Linked DNA regions of Homo sapiens. The protein of the gene in region 1 purifies or fractionates together with the protein of each later gene. This does not show direct contact. Each region holds a gene or a part of one and is shown in the gene's direction. Other genes may lie near its edges. The genes, in order: BAG2, DNAJB4 and HSF1.

Region 1 (3,829 bases):
GGCCACAGCATTTAATGTGAGCCACAGAGAGCAGCTGCAGCTGTCAGTTCATTACAGCAGCCACTTACTCAGAGATTTCTTCCAGCATGCTCTCTACCCCAAGCCCCTGGCTAGGAGAGATAGGAAAAAGCCTGCAAGCTCAGAAAAGCTGGCCCCAAGCAGTAAGGCCATGTGTTTTATCCCAGGTTCACAGTCCTAACTTCAGTTCCTCACAAGTTACTGGACTGCAAGAGATTAAAAAAGCAGAGGAAGAGGGTGAGAGAGTGGAAGCAGAGAAGTAGAGACCAAAAAAAAAAAAAAAAAAAAGATGAATTGAGGTACAACATAAAGAGAAGGGACAAAATGCAGAGAAAATGAGGAAACTTGTAGGACCAATAAAAGGCATGAATGTAAAAATGTGCTGTCATTTTCTTTTTTCTTTTTTTGAGATGGAGTTTTACTCGTCACCCAGGCTGGAGTGCAATGGCGCGATCTTGGCTCACTGCAACCTCTGCCTCCTGGGTTGAAGCGATTCTCCTGCCTCAGCCTCCCGAGTAGCTGGGATTACAGGCACGTGCCACCACGCCTGGCTAATTTTTATATTTTTAGTAAAGACAGGGTTTCACCATGTTGGCCAAGCTGGTCTCAAACTCCTGACCTCAGGTGATCCGCCTGCCTCAGCCTCCCAAAGTGCTGGGATTACAGGCATGTGACATCTGCCTAACCTGTGCTGTCATTTTCATGTGAAGAACATGAAATAGGAATAGGTCACTTCTGATTTTCTTTTATTGGCACTGGACTTCCTACTTGGGCTCCTTTGGTGCCACACAGGCCACATGGTACTGGGCCAAGTGGCTGGTGAGGTAAGTAAGCAACCTAAATCCAGATCAAAACTGTTACACATCTATAGGTAGGCCATGATCTAGTCTCTACGCTATCCTGCCCAAAGATCAATGAATTAGGAAGTTACAGAAGCAGGAGCTTGCTGACTTTCTCATATAAATAATGAAATGTTGATAGAGCTCCTCGTGCTGGCCAAGACTTTAGACCACTGTCCTGCTTCTATCTGGAGAAGGATGAAGTCAGTGCCTAGTATTGACGACAGAAGACAGCTTATCTTCTATCGTGGCTACATTTTCTCAACCAAAATTTGGGGCATTGTATTCTGATAAATGCACATGTCGTTCTGGAGAGATCTGGGACATCTGATCTCTGGAGCTCTACCCAGCATAAACCCTATATGTGCTTACTGCTCACAGTGTTAAGACTTGATCTCCATCCCAGTTACAAATGCATACCTACCCAAACTTTTGCAGACATGCCAATTTGAGAAGTCATCTGGTATCCCATATATGCAGATTGTCAGGAAGTGGTATTCTACAACCTCTTTCTGTAATCTAATACATTTCATCAGTTAATCTTACATGCTATAGTTTCAGCTTTTATCTCTAAAAAAATTTCATGGCAGAGGTAAAGAAAATAATAAATTTAGTCACAAACAAATGCCTTAATGTTTTTGACACAGATAAGTTTACATCTCATATTGATTTTTAGGAGAAAGAGAAGAATTAAATCTGACTGCAAACCGTTTGATGGGAAGAACTCTCACCGTTGAAGTGTCAGTAGAAACAATTAGAAACCCCCAGCAGCAAGAATCCCTAAAGCATGCCACAAGGATTATTGATGAGGTGGTCAATAAGTTTCTGGATGATTTGGGAAATGCCAAGAGTCATTTAATGTCGCTCTACAGTGCATGTTCATCTGAGGTGCCACATGGGCCAGTTGATCAGAAGTTTCAATCCATAGTAATTGGCTGTGCTCTTGAAGATCAGAAGAAAATTAAGAGAAGATTAGAGACTCTGCTTAGAAATATTGAAAACTCTGACAAGGCCATCAAGCTATTAGAGCATTCTAAAGGAGCTGGTTCCAAAACTCTGCAACAAAATGCTGAAAGCAGATTCAATTAGTCTTCAAACCTAAGAGCATTTACACAATACACAAGGTGTAAAAATGATAAAATACTATTTTAATTGATAACTAGTTCTTTGTTAGGTATAACCACTTAGTTGACACTGATAGTTGTTTCAGATGAGGAAAATATTCCATCAAGTATCTTCAGTTTTGTGAATAACAAAACTAGCAATATTTTAATTATCTATCTAGAGATTTTTTAGATTGAATTCTTGTCTTGTACTAGGATCTAGCATATTTCACTATTCTGTGGATGAATACATAGTTTGTGGGGAAAACAAACGTTCAGCTAGGGGCAAAAAGCATGACTGCTTTTTCCTGTCTGGCATGGAATCACGCAGTCACCTTGGGCATTTAGTTTACTAGAAATTCTTTACCTTAAGCAGCACACACATTTACTACACACACAGTGTTAACAAAGCACTGTGCTTAGAGGGTAAAAAGGAATCACAAAACAAGAATCTTTCCAAAGTTGTCTCATTCAGCAATGTTAAGGCATCTGTATCAAATTATTTTGGATGTAAAGATTCCTGTGTCTCATAATATGAATGTATTTTTTGATATACAAGAAACTGACATAAAATGTGAGAAAACCACCTATAATTTACCACTGTGAACAATTATATATCTATCTGCTTCATCTTTTCTCAAATGCATCAATTCTCTAAAATTCCTATATTGTAACTTGCCTTTTTTTAAAAAAGTTAGATGCTGATATAAAGTCTGCTTAATTGTCAACTTAATGAGCTCTATTTTGTGTAGTTATATCTTTATCCATTCCTCTTTTATGGACATTTAGGTTGTTTCCAACTTGTTGCTATTACTGCAACATATTTTTGTACACAGGACTTTTTCCTTCTTTCATTTTTGTTTTTCTCTGTATAAAGGCCCAGCAGTGAATTATATTGGGTCAAAGGATATAGACGTTTTCATGGCCTCACACATATTAAACTTTTTTTGTATAAAGGTTACAGCAATTTATACTTTTTTCAGTAATTAAAATATAGCTATTTCACTGAAATATTTCCAGCACTGAGCATTAATACCTAGTTTGCATTTTGTTTACTAAAAAGGTTGACCAGTGTGTTGATTCTTCTTTTATCTGATAAAGTGTGAAGCAACTAGAGAACACTTATTTGTTCAAAGTAACTAGTCCTATTGATATACAAAAACCACAACAACTTCCCTGGATACTATTTTGAAATGAACACATCAATTTTTATTTGAATGTAGGTATTCTTCACACTGAAAAACCAAATCAAGATCCAAACTGACTTTATGTATGTATATATCTCTCAATGCAAGCAATATCAAACTTCATTTTCTCTACAAAAATGCCAAGTTAGTCTCTTTATAAAAAGCAGTTACAATCTGAAGACATTCATGTTACTTCCTTTGCCAGCTCCAACTCTGCCTTATTTAAATCTTTGCATTTCATGGGAAACATTAATTCTATCTATGGCAGAGCCACTTGGTTTGTTAGCAGACTGATTTGCTGTCATCAGACTGTGAGATGATTTTTTGTGTGCATCATTTTTTTCTTGACCAGCTTTTTGAAAATTAAGAAATGGATAGTCATGTTTTCTTCAGGTTCTCAAGTATTGTCAGCATCCGTAAATCCCTTCCACTCTGGGAAATACTACTGCTCCCTGCTTCCCATGGCTTCCACATCAGTCCAGGACTTTTTCTACACAAATTATTCTGGCTCTGCCTCCTTGACCTTGGTATTCTTAGCATTATTTTTCCCATTTTTTTGCAATGGAGTTTTTAATGGAGGTCATTGATTTCTGATCACAGACTTGAAGAGCTATGATCCACATTTCCAAGCTGCTTGGGGTCCCTGGTTTACAGTGTCTCCAGCATTCTGTACCTAGAGCCA
Region 2 (3,600 bases), on another chromosome or scaffold:
TTGATATTATTTCTTGGTGAGGCTAAAAAAATTGATAAATAGCTGACAAACCTCTGTAACCTACAGGTAGGCTAGATCAATGTTATACATTTCTAATGTCATGGTGTTGTTAAAGTAGAGAATTTTGAAGAGTAGAAAATCGTAGCTGTCAAAATGCACAAAGATGAACATTCAGAAAGAATTGCTGAATCATCATTGCTTGGCATATAGAGTAGGCGTTCTCATTTCTTTAAAGGTTAACACATGATTATTACCCTTTATTATATTCTAAACATATATGTACATTTTCTTTTCCTCATAAAGGTTTTCTAACATTTTATTTGGACTGTGTGCAATTCTTCTGACTTTTCTTATTTATCTCTCTAATAGAAATGGGAACATTTTTGAAAAGATGAGAAAACCATACAGGAGATAAAAGATGAGTTATATACATAGAAAATGTCTCATAAATACCTGAAATATGTTATACTTTCAAAAGCAGGCATCAAAAGGGTATATAAATGCTATGATCTAACTTTGTTAACAAAAAATTATAAAACTACAGCAAATAACCATGAAGATTTATAGAAAACAGAATTAGAAGTAAATACAGTAATATTTAACAGGGATTACCTAAAATGATATTATAGGGAGATTTTTAAAAACTTTTTTCTGCGTTTTCCAAAATCTCCAACAATGAATATATATTTATAATTAGGGAAATGTGTTTTTGAAAGAAAAAATATTTCTCATATTACTGCCCCTTAAGTGGCATATCCAAATTTTACATTGATGCAGTTGCAGTTAAGTCTTGTAAGGAACATGAGTATGTACTGTCTGTAACCTGATACTTTGTTCTAGCTTTCCTGCAGCACCACAGTTCTTTAAATAGGGATCCTGTGGGGCGGCTGCAGGGGACGGGGGTTGAGGGGTGGCAGGGACCTCATTCAGTTTTAGTTTAGTTGAAGTAACTAAGTTCAGATACTAAAATTTCAAAAATAAGTATTTGTTTGCCAGAACTATGAACTCATGTATACTAGAAATAACTAGTTAGCTAAAATCATGTTTAAGTCCTTTACTTATTTTAAAATAACGCATTTGAATTTTATTATAGATACTCCCTTAACAATGTGAAACTAGTACACAAACTTTCTGGCGTTTCTGATTGATAGACCCCAGGAATTTTGAAGACGACATAAATTACTTGGAAATCCTAATTTAAACAACCTGCGTTTTGGTATTATATACTTAACAGACAAATAGCTTAAAATTAAAAAATCCCTAAAGTAGAATTGTCGTTCCTTTTATCTGTATATTAACTTTAACTTCTTTTAACATAGGGTGTTTAATGACTGTGATGATTTTCACCTAGTATGGAGTACATAAATATATAGTTGTGACATTCTGTGTTGAAATATTGGCATGTTAACCCATTTGTCCTGTTTAATTAGGAAATAAAGACGGTAGAGCTAGTCGGAAAATGAATAGTTAATCGTGGAGGAGGAGAAAACATAGCTCAGTACTTTGACTAGAGGCAGCTGGGAAAGTGACGTCCTGTAGCATTTGCTGTTCTAGAAAGTACAGAGACACGTAGTGAAAATGGGAGGATCTAGAAGGAGGCTGTCTCCTGTGTAGTGTATATTTATCTGTAAGTGAGCCGTTGGGGAAGGATTGAATACAGAGACGCTGTCTGCTTGCTGCCTTAAGACAGCTAGCTGAATTGCTGATTAACTTTTAAAATACCCAGCTTGGTTTATTTTTCTTAGAATCTGTTGCTAAGACTGGGGACGCTGTTTTCTTTTACAAAGGGAAATCTAAGTTAATTTCAAGGCATTCGAAATGGGGAAAGACTATTATTGCATTTTGGGAATTGAGAAAGGAGCTTCAGATGAAGATATTAAAAAGGCTTACCGAAAACAAGCCCTCAAATTTCATCCGGACAAGAACAAATCTCCTCAGGCAGAGGAAAAATTTAAAGAGGTCGCAGAAGCTTATGAAGTATTGAGTGATCCTAAAAAGAGAGAAATATATGATCAGTTTGGGGAGGAAGGTAAGTATTCTCTGTATATCTTTCTGTCTCTTCAGCTCTGTCTCTTTTTTTTTTTTCTCTCTCTCTGCCAGCCTTTTTCCCCTCTCTCTCAGCTTGTTAAGGTTATCCTTAAATTGGATTCTCAGTCATATCAAAAGTAGAAGGACAAATGTATAATAACAAGGTTTCATCTCTGATCATATGAATGAGTATTGCAGAGCCATGAATGAAATGTCCTTGTTTGCCTTTTTTATTTTAGCATTTTGTATTATACATATTTTATCATTAGACTTACAATGTTAACAATGTATATTTTAAAATAAACCTTGAATTCCCATACCTATTAGTAAATTGTGTCAAAAGTCTTATGAAACCTGTTTCGTTTTCTAATGAATTTTCTGCCAGAACCAATAAAGAGTCTTTAGTCATTTAAAACCTTAAGATTGGCATTTCAGATTCTGAGTAGTTTATAGCTTATTCACAAAAACAAAAAGTAGTTTTTTGCCTTTCTTATAGCAAGGCTAGTTTAGACTGAACAAGACAGAGTTGTGACTCTCAGAAGCAGAAGGCGCAGGCATTTAGCTTCTAGTTGTTTTTGGCATTCTGCCTGGAGAGGAAAGAATTTTCCTGATGTCATAAAATACCAGAACAAGTTTTTAGCTTAATTGTAAACAATAATTTTGTGCCAAGAAAATGAAATCTCAGAAATACAATTTTTGACCTAAAATGGCCACCTAGTTAGAATAATTACTGATTTACTTTTAGATAACATTATTTATTTAGAAATTTTACTATCTAGGTATAGAGAAAAACATGACAACTTCCCTTTCCTCTCCCTGCCATACTTTTGTTTTTTGCATTGTGAGATCAAAAACTAGTGAGCACAGTAAAGGAGGATAATTTCAGATTATCCTTTTCTCATTCTGCATTTTAAATCAGGTTTGTCCATCACTTCCATATAAACGGGGCTATGAAGTAAGACTATTTTAAATTGCTAATTGATAACACAAAAAACTTTAACTTGTACTGTTTTGGGGATTTTCAACTTTTAACATCAGGACTAAGTTATTTTATTATTAGTTTTTCTCCCAAAATACTGGCTTTCAAATCACTGTAGCTATGAAAACTTGTTATCCCTTTGATTCCTTTATTACATTTAACATCAAATTTTCCTAATTAGAAATATATCCTTAAAATATAGTCAAGCAGTGACTGCTTATTTTGAATGAAACAAATTAAATGTAGACAAGCAGGGTGATTGTATATAGAGGGTTTTTTCCTTTTTGTTTTGTTTAGCTTTTTTGGTCTATGAGTTGCCCAAAATTGAAGTTTATGTTGCAGGTTTTGGTGTGGTGAGGACCTACAGTGTCAGGTTCTTACAAAGTAAATATTGAAAAAGGCAAATACTGGGCAGTTCAATCTTGCATGATACCTATGGCCATATTACCCAAAATATCATGACTTGGTTTATCTCAAAAGCTAAGCAGGATTCTGAGATACTACCAATAATGTACTACTATTTCTAAAGGAGTAATTTTGTAATTTTGTAAAGAAATTCACAAACATGGAATGACACTGTGAATTCCTGTGAA
Region 3 (3,829 bases), on another chromosome or scaffold:
GGGGAGACCGAGGCCCAGAAACTGGCCAGTAACTTTACTGAGCCTGGCCAGGAATGGGACCAGGTCTGGACCACCATTGCACGTCCCCTCCCTGGCCTGAGATCAGGACTCCCACTGCAGCCACTGGAGGCAGAATGCCGGGTCACTGCCCAGGAGACCCCATTGGTGGGGACTGTGGCAGCTACCCCATCCCTGTGTTGTTTGATTTCCCACCCCCCCCTCCCAAGACCCTCATTCCCATGAGCACCCCACCCACACAGGCAAGGGCCTTGAGGGGACCCAGCAAGTCGTGGAGGACAGCACAGCCTTGGAGAGGAAATGTGTCAGCCACAAGGTTATGATCCCGGGGATCCACATAAGAGCATGGGCGTGCACGTGGGTGGTCCTCCCTCAGCCAGCTTCTCAACAGCTTCTCCCAAAGGTACACCTGGATCCAGTACCACTGAGACCCAAAGACGGGGTTGGGGGACTGAATACCTGGACTGACAGGCACCTCCATAGAACTGAGACCCATGAGACCCGGGACCCGCAGCCTCCCTGCCCCGTGCCCTGGTGCCGGCCCTCAGCCCAGCTTCCTCGTCTGCATGCAGCAGCTCCTCTGTCCACCAGCAGAGGCTCTTCTAGGGCCTTGCTGGGCTGCAGCTGACTCAGGAGGGCAACAGCCTCTTCAGAGAATTTGACAGCATGGAGAACCAAACAAAAGCAGAAAGTGAAGCCTCAGAACTGGGTTCACCATCATCCCAGTTTTTTACAAGCTATGATTTTGTCCCATCTTTATTAACAAGATAAGGAAGTATGAAAAGTAATCTCGACATCTGAGATGGTGAGATTACAGCCCCAGGAGCCACCCAGCTGGCTGAGGAGCCTGAGAACAAGGCACAGCCACATGACCTGTGCCAGACAAATGCTAGAATGATGGTCACGCAGGTTAGAACGAACCCAGGTAGACGGAGGCCTCAGGATCAGGGTGAGGCCAGAGGGGGCACCTGGGTGCAAAATTTAAGGAAGCACTTTTTGTTTTTTAGATAAGGTCTCGCTCTGTTGCCCAGGCTGGAGTGCAGGGCTATGATTGCAGCTCGCTGCAGCCTCTGCCTCCCAGGCTCAAGTGATCCAGTCACCTCAGCTGAGTCACTGGGACTACAGGCTTGCACCACCAGACCTGGCTTTTTTTTTTTTTTCTTTTTAAGGTTTTAGTAGAGACAGGGTCTCGCCGTATTGCCCAAGCTAGTCTGGAACTCACGGGCTCAAGCCATCCTCCCATCTCAGCCTCCCGAAGTGCTGGGATTACAGGCTTGAGCCACCGCGCCTGGCCCTGAGGCATTCCTTTTTAAGACCTACCTGCATTCGGATGGCGCTGGGAGTGGGGGCCTCCTTAGATGTGGGCTCCTGGATGCTTCTCTGTCTTCACCTGGCCCCAGCCTCATGGGTGCAGCTGGAAAGACTCTAGAAGGATGTGCTGAAACCCTGGGGCTCCCTGAGACTGAGTGAGCTGGAGGTCACCAAGGCCCTCGGCCTATCGCGGGAGAGAGTTCCATTGAAAGCCAGTGGTCAGGTGGCCGCTGTGGAGGGTCTCTGGGTGGACAATTGGGAGCAGAGTGGTCCCTGCAGTGAGGCAGGGGGCAGGGCCTGAGGGGTCCCTGAAGTAAGGCAGGGCAGGGCGTCCACTCATAAGCACACGAGGAGTTGCAGAAGCAGAGCCGACCTGGCCACGCTCAGTCACTCAGACCCTGGTCACAGATCGTGTCCGGAGCTCCCACGGCAGGCAGGGCCACCCCTGCTTCCCTGGTTCTGAGAGCCGCCAAGACCCAGCAGGCCCACTGGCCCCACCCTGGAAGATCTGGTATTTGGCCCAAGATGCTGGAGGCCCCACAGCAGCAGCTGTGAGAAGTGCTGCAGGGTCTGGAGGGCCTGATGTGTGCCCGGACCATAGTGCCTCCTGGTGTGGCCATAAGAAGGCACACAGCTGGGGCTGGTCGTGGTGGCTCACGCCTGTAATCCCAGCACTTTGGGAGGCTGAGGTGGGCGGATCACGAGATCAGGAGGTCAGGAGATTGAGACCATCCTGGCTAACATGGTGAAACCCCGTCTATATTAAAAAATACAAAAAACTAGCTGGACGTGGTGGTGGGTGCCTGTAGTCCCAGCTACTTGCGAGGCTGAGGCAGGAGAACGGCGTGAACCCAGGAGGCGGGGCTTGCAGTGAGCTGAGATCGCGCCATTGCACTCCAGCCTGGGTGACAGAGCGGGACTCCATCTCAAAAAAAAAAAAAAAGAAGGCACACATCTGTCCTCATACAGCTTCTGTGCATAGCACAGAAAAAATTAAAAAGGCTCTGTGCTGTAGCCTCCTGTGTTTCCTCTGCCCCGGATGGTGTGGTGGGGGGGGTGCGGTGAGGAGGGGCCCAGGGCACAGAAGGGCTGAGCTGCAGTGGCCTCCTGGGGGGAGGCAGATGCCTCCGGTGCCCCATGCCCACCCAACTCCACAGGCTAGTGTTTGCTCAGTCCTTTATTGAGGGACCAGGGATGGACAGCCTGGCCCTGAAAGTCTCTCAGTTTTGGAGGAGTCAGCCTGTGTGCAGGGCGAGCTGGAGAGGGGTCGGTGGGGCTCACAGTGCCTTCCCAGAGGAAGCAAGCAGCTCCCATCGGGTATATTGAGGGCTGTTGGCTCCAGGGTCTCCTCAAGGTCTGGCAGGTGGAGGGGAGGCTGTCTAAGGAAAGGAGGTGGTCCCAAATGTCTCAAGGCACCTGGCAGCAAGGGCTGCTGCTGCCTCAGCCTCCTCCCTGTGACCCTGTGGGCCATGGTGAGCAGCAGTAGCCACCACACTTGTGCACGGCAGCCAGTGACGAGATGTGATGAGAGATGAGGGCGATTGTGCTGCTCTTGGTCCTTGTGTGGCGAGAACACGCTGGAAGCTCCTCCAGAGCGGAAACAAGAAGAGTGTTTATGAGAAAGGTGCGGGTGGCTCAGATGTGGACAGAACCAGACCAGGGAACGGGGCCACAAAGTGAGCCACTTTGTCTGCACCTGCTCGCGCTTCCTGCCTGCCTCACTGCTTCCATGCCCTGACTCCGGTGGTCCCTGCTCCCCACACGTGGGCCACAGCTACTCACACACGCGCTCCCTTTGCTCCTAAAGCCTATACTCCCGGGACCCGGAGAGGGAACAGCCGGCCAGCCGAGCCCAGGAGCCCAGATCACCGGTCAGCAGATACAGCTTTGACTTGGCAGGAGGCTGGAACAAGAGGCTTGTGGCCTGGGCTGTGGGGCCACCTTGTAGAATACGGCACTGTTCACGTTTTGGGCCAGGGAGCCCTTTGAGAAGATACTCAGAGACACAGACACTTTCTATGTAAGGTGTCCCTACAGGCAGGATCTCACACACATTTCAGGTCCTTCACAGTGCTGCAGAAAATGAGGCCACAGGCTCCAAGTTTACTGCAAGCTGCGGGGTTTGCTGACACCTACACTTCTCAGCGTGTGGCATCTCGCACCAGCCAGGGGCCTCCCATTTCCAGTGGCAGGTTTTCGTGATATCCAGTTATGACCGGTGACTCCTCCAAGAGGTGCCTGTGGTCAGCAGAGGAGGGACCTTGTTCCACTGAGGCAGGAAGATGAGAGAGACACTGGGTTCTCTGATGGGTTCACCAGCAGACCCTGTGAAATTCATAATGGCCCCTAAGGTAGGGGTTGCCTGACATGTTCAACTTGGATTTAACCCTTAAGGCATAAGAAGCCGCTGAAAATGTTCAGACGTTACAAAACTAGGGCCGGGCACGGTGGCTCACGGCTGTAATCCCAGCACTTCGGGAGGCTGAGGCGGTTGGATCAC

The links.
Region 2: the proteins of BAG2 (region 1) and DNAJB4 purify together in Homo sapiens (affinity purification with mass spectrometry; 4 studies listed by BioGRID and IntAct, with this or other methods). This does not show direct contact.
Region 3: the proteins of BAG2 (region 1) and HSF1 purify together in Homo sapiens (affinity purification with mass spectrometry; 3 studies listed by BioGRID and IntAct, with this or other methods). This does not show direct contact.

What each region holds. Positions count from the first base shown.
Region 1 is NC_000006.12:57,182,245-57,186,073, forward strand, and holds part of BAG2 (BAG family molecular chaperone regulator 2), read left to right. Parts: intron 1-1,533; coding exon 1,534-1,946; 3' UTR 1,947-3,829. UniProt on the Homo sapiens protein: Co-chaperone for HSP70 and HSC70 chaperone proteins. Acts as a nucleotide-exchange factor (NEF) promoting the release of ADP from the HSP70 and HSC70 proteins thereby triggering client/substrate protein release.
Region 2 is NC_000001.11:78,003,293-78,006,892, forward strand, and holds the start of DNAJB4 (dnaJ homolog subfamily B member 4), read left to right. Parts: upstream 1-1,646; 5' UTR 1,647-1,818; coding exon 1,819-2,029; intron 2,030-3,600. UniProt on the Homo sapiens protein: Probable chaperone. Stimulates ATP hydrolysis and the folding of unfolded proteins mediated by HSPA1A/B (in vitro).
Region 3 is NC_000008.11:144,294,550-144,298,378, forward strand, and holds part of HSF1 (heat shock factor protein 1), read left to right. Parts: intron 1-3,829. UniProt on the Homo sapiens protein: Functions as a stress-inducible and DNA-binding transcription factor that plays a central role in the transcriptional activation of the heat shock response (HSR), leading to the expression of a large class of molecular chaperones, heat shock proteins (HSPs), that protect cells from cellular insult damage.